Linked DNA regions of Homo sapiens. The protein of the gene in region 1 purifies or fractionates together with the protein of each later gene. This does not show direct contact. Each region holds a gene or a part of one and is shown in the gene's direction. Other genes may lie near its edges.

Region 1 (4,339 bases):
TCCTAGGCTGTGTCTGAACTAGCTGATAGGCCAGAAGCTTTAGGATGAAAAGAATACTGGAGGAGTCCTCAAAGTTAGAACTTTTATTGGTGTCTGTGTCCCCTCACTCATCTTAGCTATCTTGACCCTTCCCTACTTACCTTAATGATTTCGTGATTTCAATGAAAAAGACGCAACCTAGATAAGATTGCAAGGTCCCATACCTTCCTGGGGGCAGAGTTGACCTCAGACAGGGTCTTGCTTTGTTGCCCAGGCTGGAATGCAGTGGCGTGATCTCAGCTCACAGCAGCCTCAAACTCTCGGGCTCAAGCAATCCTCCCACCTCAGCTTCCCATATAGCTTGGGCTACAGGCGTGCACCACCATGCCCAGCTGATTTTTAAATTTTTTGTAGAGACAAGTTCTCCCTCTGTTGCCCCAGCTGGTTTCGAACTCCTGGGCTCAAGCGATCCTTGCTCTTTGGCCTCCCAAAGTGTTGGGATTACAGGTGTGAGCCACTGTGCCCAGCCCGACCTTTTGTTAATACTCCCATCTAATTGTCCAAACGGACTTGAACAAAAGAATCTTCTTCCCAATACTGCCAGGGAGGGCAAAATTCTTCAAATTCATGTTTGAGGCCATAAACGAACAGGAGTAAAATGGAATCCGCAGGAAGCAATGACAAGAAACCCAAAAACATTCATTTCCCTCCAGCCCAAGTGGCAGATGGGATCTCAAATACACCACGGTGTGATGCGTGACAGGAGGCATCCACTGGGGATGTGGAGCATTTTAAGTGCCCTGCAGAGGGTGGGCCTGGGTCACCCCCCCCCCCACCGCGACACCCCTCCCCAGGCAACATTCCTGGGGAGTCTGGACCTCCCTTGGTGGACCGACACCCGAGGGTCTCTAGGGTTTTTCACCCCATATCGGGGTGAACTGAAGGCATGGGAAGAGGCAGCCCCACAGCCTGGGTCCCCAAAACCCCCTCCGGGCTGAGAGCAAGAGATGCCGCCTGGAGGCCACTCACCAAGCAGCTCCGCTGGCTCAGCAATGGGGGTCGTCCGGGTCTGGGTCATTGCCACTGGCTCGTCCCTCCTCCCACCCTTGCTTCCTGGACTCAAGAGCTGCTGGGCTCTCTGCGCGCCGGCAGTGGGCTCCGCAGGCTGTCTCCTACACAGAGCAGGCGGGAGGAGGGCTCTGGGTTGCTTCCCGCGCCGCAGCCGCGCGCTTCCGGCGGGGTCGCCGCCACTTCCGCTCGAGCGCGCCTCGCGCGGCCGCGGCGCGAGCCGGGACCCCTGGAAGGGTCGGGTGCGCGGCCCAGGAGGTACCGCTGTCTCCTCACAATCGGCCAGGCCTGCAGCCGCTGCCGCCGCTGCCGCCGCCGCCGCCGCCGCCGCCGCCGCCCTACTCAGGGAGTGGCCCAGGCCTGCGGCGCGCCACCCTCACCTCCTTCATTCCTACCGTCAAAGCCCAGCCTTGGCTACCTGACCCCCCTGTGGTCTCGAACTCGGTTAGTCCGGTGAAGGGACAGAGAAGCCTGGGTTCCCGGCGGCATCACTGAGATGCTCAGTCCTGAATTCTGCCCTCCATTAGGATTATCTGCTTTGTGGGATAATTTCCTCATTGGTTGAGTCAGTGAGTTGCGTGTCTGCAAGAGAGCATCCTATCTGGTGGGTCTTCATCTAGATCTTGCACATTTCTTACTAAGTTCATCCTAAGAATATCTTACAGATAAGGAAAGTGAGCTGCAAAGAAGTGTAAAAACAGGGGAAACAGGAGATAGCAGTATAAAGAGAAAAATTAAAACAGATCGTGTGACTTTCCTCTATTGTTAATTGATTTGGGGACATTTTAAACTTATAGAAAGAAAAGAAACACGGGTTTTGTTGACACATCTCAAAACAAAATGGGTGTAACACCTTTAAAATGTAAACTATTGTGCTGGATATGTTTGTATTATTTTGAAGTCATTTAAAGTAATCGCATGAGGTGTTGCCTGCTGTTGGACCAGTAGTTTCTTTTTAGTATTCAAGCAAAGGCATAGTGAGGAAATAGTAAGAAAAAAAGAAGGAATGCTGTAACAGGAAACAAGGGAAAGGAGGAGCAGAGGAAAAGGGCAGGAAAGGTTTAACATTTACGTAGCACTTGCTATGCACCAGACACTTTTAAGCTCTTTAAATGTATTAACTCCTCTAGTTCTCACCACAGCCCTATGAAATGGGTATACTATTATCACCTCTGGTTTACAAAGAAGGCAAGTGAGGTCAAGAGAGGTTAAGCAACTGGCCCAAGGTTACACCGTAAGTGGCAAAACCTTTGCTTGAGCACATCAATTTGGCCCTAGAGTCTATGCTTTTTTTTTTTTGAGAAGGGCCTCTTTCCTGCTGCCTAGGCTGGAGGGCTGTGGCACCATCATGGCTCACTGCAGCTCCAACCTGCCGGGCTCAATGAATTCTCTCACCTCAGCCTCCTGAGTAGCTGAGACCGCAGGCACATACCACCTTGCCCAGCTAGGCTTTTTTTTTTTTTTTTGAGATGGAGTCTTGCTCTGTCACCCAGGCTGGAGTGCAGTGGTGCGATCTTGGCTCACTGCAACCTCTATCTCCCGGGTTCAAGTGATTCTCCTGCCTCAGCCTCCCGAGTAGCTGGGATTACAGGTGCCTGCCACCATGCCCAGCTAATTTTTGTATTTTTAGCAGAGACGGGGTTTCACCACCTTGGCCAGGCTGGTTTCAAACTCCTGACCTCATGATCCACCCGCCTTGGCCTCCCAAAGTGCTGGGATTACAGGCGTGAGCCACCACTCCCAGCCTATTTTTTTTTTTGGTATTTTTTTTATAGTGACAGGGTTTCACCATATTGCCCAGGCGGGTCTCAAATTCCTGGGCTCAAGGGGTCCGCCCGCCTCGACCTCCCAAAGTGTTGGGATTACAGGTGTGAGCCACTGTGCCTGGTCCTAGAGTCTATGCTTATTTTTTTAAAAAAAATTTTATTTATTTATTTATTTTTTGAGACAGAGTCTAGCTCTGTCACCAGGCAGTGGCGTGATCTTAGCTCACTGCAATCCCCGCCTTCTGGGTTCAAGCCATTCTCGTGCCTCAGCCTCTCAAGTAGCTGGGATTACAGGCATGCGCCACCATGCCCAGCTAATTTTTGTATTTTTAGTAAAGACGGGGTTTCACCATGTTGGCCAGGCTGGTCTCAAACTCCTGACCTCAGGTAATCTGCTCACCTTGGCCTCCCAAAATGCTGGGATTACAGGTGTGAGCCACCATGCCTGGCCTATGCTTCTAATCACCACACTATATTTCCTCTAAAGAGAGGGCAAGACTTGAATCAACTGGATTTGATGCTACTGAGTAGGAGTAGACAAGAGAGGTTTGCAAGGTAATTACTCTTCCATGATGTGAGATTATGGGCTAAAATGTTTCATAGAACAAAAATGCCATGAATAAAGTTTAAAAAGAGGAAACATACAGTGCACAAAGAATTAACATCTGGAATAGATAGTGAAAACAAATATATATAAGAAAAAGACAACCCTACAGAGAAATGGGCAAATGTATAAATAGACAATAGATGAAGAAGTAAGAATGAAATAAAACTGACCACATAAAAAAGATGCTTAACTGCACTAGTGATGCTGGCATGCAAAGCAAAAAAATAGAGAGATCCATTTTCTCCCACACTGGCTAAAACTGAAATTTGAAAATATCAATTTTGTGGAAAAGTGAATATTCTTAGTAGAAGTATAAATCAGGATAGCCACTGCTAGGGGTGGGGGTAGATTTGGCAGTATTAATTGAAGTTAAAATATTAAAATTAATCTTTGAAGTAATATTGATTATACTGAAGAACATTGCTTCAGACATTCTAATTTAACTTTTTTATTCTACAGATAAACAGGTGTTCAAAAAGAGGTATGCAAAATATTTAACTGGAAACTTTTTTTGCATAATAGTTTAAAATTAGAAAAATATAATTTCAGCAGGTAAATAAACTATGGTAATAGTTTACTCATTCTCTAAACAAATATTTGTTGATTGCTTACTAGGTATAAGGCATTATTCTGGACATTGAGGATAAATTGACAGTTATCTTTGTGAACTAGAGAAAGATGATAGGGTGGGTTAGGGGCTAATTAACATTCCCCAGCCCAGAGCCTTCCCCTTAATTTTTTTTACATCTTGATAGAATGATTTCAATTTGTTCTGTAAATCACACTGGACTCCCCTGTAATGATTACAGAAAGAAAAATGTTTTTTATATGGATATATGGGTATACCCCAATTTGAAGGCATAAAGGCACAATAGCGGACTCTAAAGTAGGAATGAGGAAAGCTGGAAAGGAGGGGGCT
Region 2 (3,660 bases), on another chromosome or scaffold:
ATTTTTTTTTTTTAACTACATGGAGCAAAGAGTGCCAGACAGCATTCTAATGTACAGAAATCCAAAAAGCATCCTGCTCTCCCAGGCCTTCTCCTGGCTCAGAGTGGGGGCAGCTGGGATCACGTGTGCTGGGAAGGGCCTGGTTGGACTTCTTTCTCCCTGATGGTGGCCACCACGAGGCACCTTGGCAGAGAAGGAACAGGGGAAGCTGAGACCAAACACAGAGATGACACAGCTCCTCTGAAGCTAGGCTGGAGGGGGAGAAACTGCCTTGAGGGGTGTTGGGCCTCATAAAAGCCTGTTTGTCTACTGTGCTGTGAAGTGATCCTCAAAGCTCTCAGAGGAAGGCCTCAACGGGGTGGCACCCTTCATGCAGGGGGCTGGTTGTGAAACAGGTGATGCTTCTCTTTTCAAATAATTTAGACACATTTAGTGGTCACATTCCTACTGAGCTGAAGTATGGGCCCCCTATGGAACTAAGTGGAGTCCCTTGTATTGACGTTGGCCCAGCACCTCACCCACGTTTTCTGGGCCCACTATCTCCACGTTTGCAAATTGGGTTCCTGTGAAAAGTTTCAAGAAAAAAAAAAAGGCAGAAGAGGAAAAACAGGCTCCTCTGCTGCGGCCTTGAGTTTGGGGCCATCGGAAAAAGTCTGGATGAAGAATGATTTTGGCCCTATGAGTTTCACAGCAGCCAGTGGAAACTTCCAGGAATGCTGCCCCGGGCCAGCCAGGGGCTGTTTCCGCTGCCACTTTTACGAGCTGCAGACCCCCTCCCCGGCTGGCTGGCCAGCACAGGGGGAATGTGATGGTCTCTTTCAGCTCAGCTCTGCCTCTTAGGGTGCAGTTTGTGTTCCATGGGCAGCAATTTTTCCAGGCTCTGTCCAGTGACAGAGGGTTCAGAGCCCTCACAGCCCTGATTGGCCCATTTAGAAGGGGCCAGCCACCAGGCGGAGCACCCTCCATGGCAGCTAATGTCTGTGCCGGACGCTGCAAGAATTTATAGCAGCCTTAAAGGGGGAGACTCCCTTCTAAAATGTTTCAATGTTTTATTAAATGTATGAAAGAAAGTTTCCTTTCCACTGGACCAAGGCCCAGGACTTCATGGAGCCCCAGGGAAGGGGGCAAAACCTCTTGGGAAAGCACACGGGTGAGGTTAATCTGACCCTCCTGATGCCTATGGGCTGCACAGTACCGGAGTCAAGGCTGCCATACTCACATGGGCTCATCCATTGGCCAGCAGGGGCCTGGCATACAGTAAGGCACTCAGCCAACCCTAAAGAGGGAAGTGAAATGATGCCAAAGGCGTCATGGCCAGCATGGTCCAACCCGCGCAAGTGATGAGTGGGGCAGGCTTGCTCTGGTCCAGCCCCTCTTTGGGGAGCATGCAGGCTCCCAGACAGTGCTGCCCCTCTGCTGACACTCTATCCAAAGCCAGAGGAGGAGGGCAGCTTTTCCCAGCCTGTCTGGGAGCTATGTCTGCAAGACTGGCCCTGGCCCATGAAGCACATGCAGCTCCAGCAGCTGGGGGCCTTTGGCAGGCCAGGCAGCCAGGTCCGCAGGTGAGCCATTGTGCTGGGTGTGTAAGAGAGGCCAGGAGAGCAAGGGCCCAGCTTCAGGAAGGCAGCATGATCTGCCTGACAAGCACTCTGACAAGCATGGTCAGAGTGAGCAACTGCTGGGCTGCTGAGTTACCTAGGCCATGAGCTTGGTTGTCTTTCGCACTGGGCGAAGGAGGAGAAAGTGGGCTCAGAGAGATGAAGTTGTCATGGCCTGTGATTGCCCTGGGCTGAAGTCCCACATGACATATCCTATAGTAGTATTCGTTGGACTTGGACAGGCAGAGACCCTCCTGGGATCAGGGGACTCACCTCCCTGCCTTTGTCCCCTGCCAGCCTGGGAGGCTCTTCCAGGTGTGAGGGGAAGGACCCAAGTGGAGTGCCATCATTTGTGGGTGCAATTTTCTCACCTCTGGAGTGGAGGTGGTTGATGGTCTCCAGTTGTTTATGGACAGTGCCTGGCTCAGACAAGGAAACTGGTTTTGCTGCAGAACTCCAATATAAATGCCAGGCCACCAGGGTGGGGGGTTCCTGACCCCTTGGTTCTCTTGAGAAATGACCAAAGGCTATGGGACCTGCCATCTAGTTTCCCTCACTGTGTCCCCACCCCCTGCCCACAAACATTATAGATCAGCCATCCAGAGCCAGGAGAAGCAGACATAAAGGCAAGGGCTATCCCAATAGCACCAGAGACAAGGGGCCTGGCAGAACCCCTGGGTGGAAAGAGCCAGCTGGCATTTGGGCAGTGGCTGAGGCAGCCAAGTGGGGACTGGCCAAGGGGGTCCCTAGAGCAGCCTGGCGGCCCTTCTGTGTTCTGACCCAACCACTGTTTATTTTGCAGACAGTCTCCATTCTGGAGCAGCGGTTGACACTGACAGAAGACAAGCTGAAGCAGTGTCTGGAGAACCAGCAGCTAATCATGCAGAGAGCAACACCATGATCAGGGGAGCAGGAATCAGGAGCTCGGTGGATTTGCAGGTGGCAGGCCAGGGATTTGTACCATGGGACTTGGGTAAATAAAGGGGACTGAACTCTGTGGGAATCACATCCATACTGGAGCCCTGGATTTTTGCAGTTCTGCCCTCCACCTTGCTATCTGCACCAGGAGGCTCTCCACCTGGCAGCCAGAGGTCCCCAGTGGGCCGGGCTCACACACAAATGATGCTTCAGACCCGAATGAGAGGACCACATTTTGCTTAATGTAAAGGAGCCACTTGAAAATGTCTGCTCCTTCGGGGTCCTGAGATTGTGGCTCCCCCTCTGGAGGAGGTGGCTCCACGATGCCTTGATTTTCACTCATCATTTGGACATGTGACTGGCTTTTCCTACCTCTGCCATGGTGTAGAAATTGATTGCACATTGATTGGATGAGCCGGGGGTTTTCTCTAAATCTGACTAAAGGCCCAAAGTGGGCCCATCTGAGTCAGGTTTGTTGAGAACAAGCCCTCTCAAGTGGGTGGTGGCTTTTCAGTGGCCCTGATTTCTGTTCCACACGTGTTCACTGGAGCCAGGTGACTTCCTCCTTGCGTGAGTGAGGGCACAGGAATCTCAAAATTAAACCTGACTTCATTGCACTTGTTGCAGGAGTGGCTTATGCTGGATGACACTTAATCAATCTTCCCATCCCCAGGGCCCAAACAGAATGAGAATGGTGACTTGGGACGGCCTCTGCCAGGATTGCCTCTGAGGCCAGGACCCCCCTGTTTGCAGCTGTTCAGGGTGTCGGGGAACAAGGGCAGTCAGAGCCCTTGCATGCACCCACCTCCCTCTGGCTGGCCCCCACTGACTGCTTCTGTTGGGACTCAGAGGCCTCAGGCACCCAAGTTTCCATTTGCTCCTGAGGGCTTCCATAGGGTCCTCCCTCTGCCCCTGTGCTGGGGAAGCCAGGACAAATGTTTTCCCTGTGTCTGTGTGTCGCCCGTGCCTTCCGTCTTCAGCTTCTTGGGGCTCAGCCAGCCAAGGAGGTCTTTATCCTCAAACACACCTGCCCTGCCCTGGGGAATGGGAGGTGGTGTTAGATCGTCCCAGGAGCTGTCAGTACCACGTGGTCAGTGGGTTCACAGCCTCTGCAGCCTCCAGGTGGAAGCAGAGCCTGCATGCC

Evidence for each region.
Region 2: the proteins of KHDC1 (region 1) and POC1A purify together in Homo sapiens (affinity purification with mass spectrometry; one large-scale study listed by BioGRID and IntAct). This does not show direct contact.

The regions. Positions count from the first base shown.
Region 1 is NC_000006.12:73,260,086-73,264,424, reverse strand, and holds the start of KHDC1 (KH homology domain-containing protein 1), read left to right. Parts: upstream 1-1,228; 5' UTR 1,229-1,651; intron 1,652-4,339.
Region 2 is NC_000003.12:52,074,726-52,078,385, reverse strand, and holds the end of POC1A (POC1 centriolar protein homolog A), read left to right. Parts: intron 1-2,400; coding exon 2,401-2,499; 3' UTR 2,500-3,160; downstream 3,161-3,660.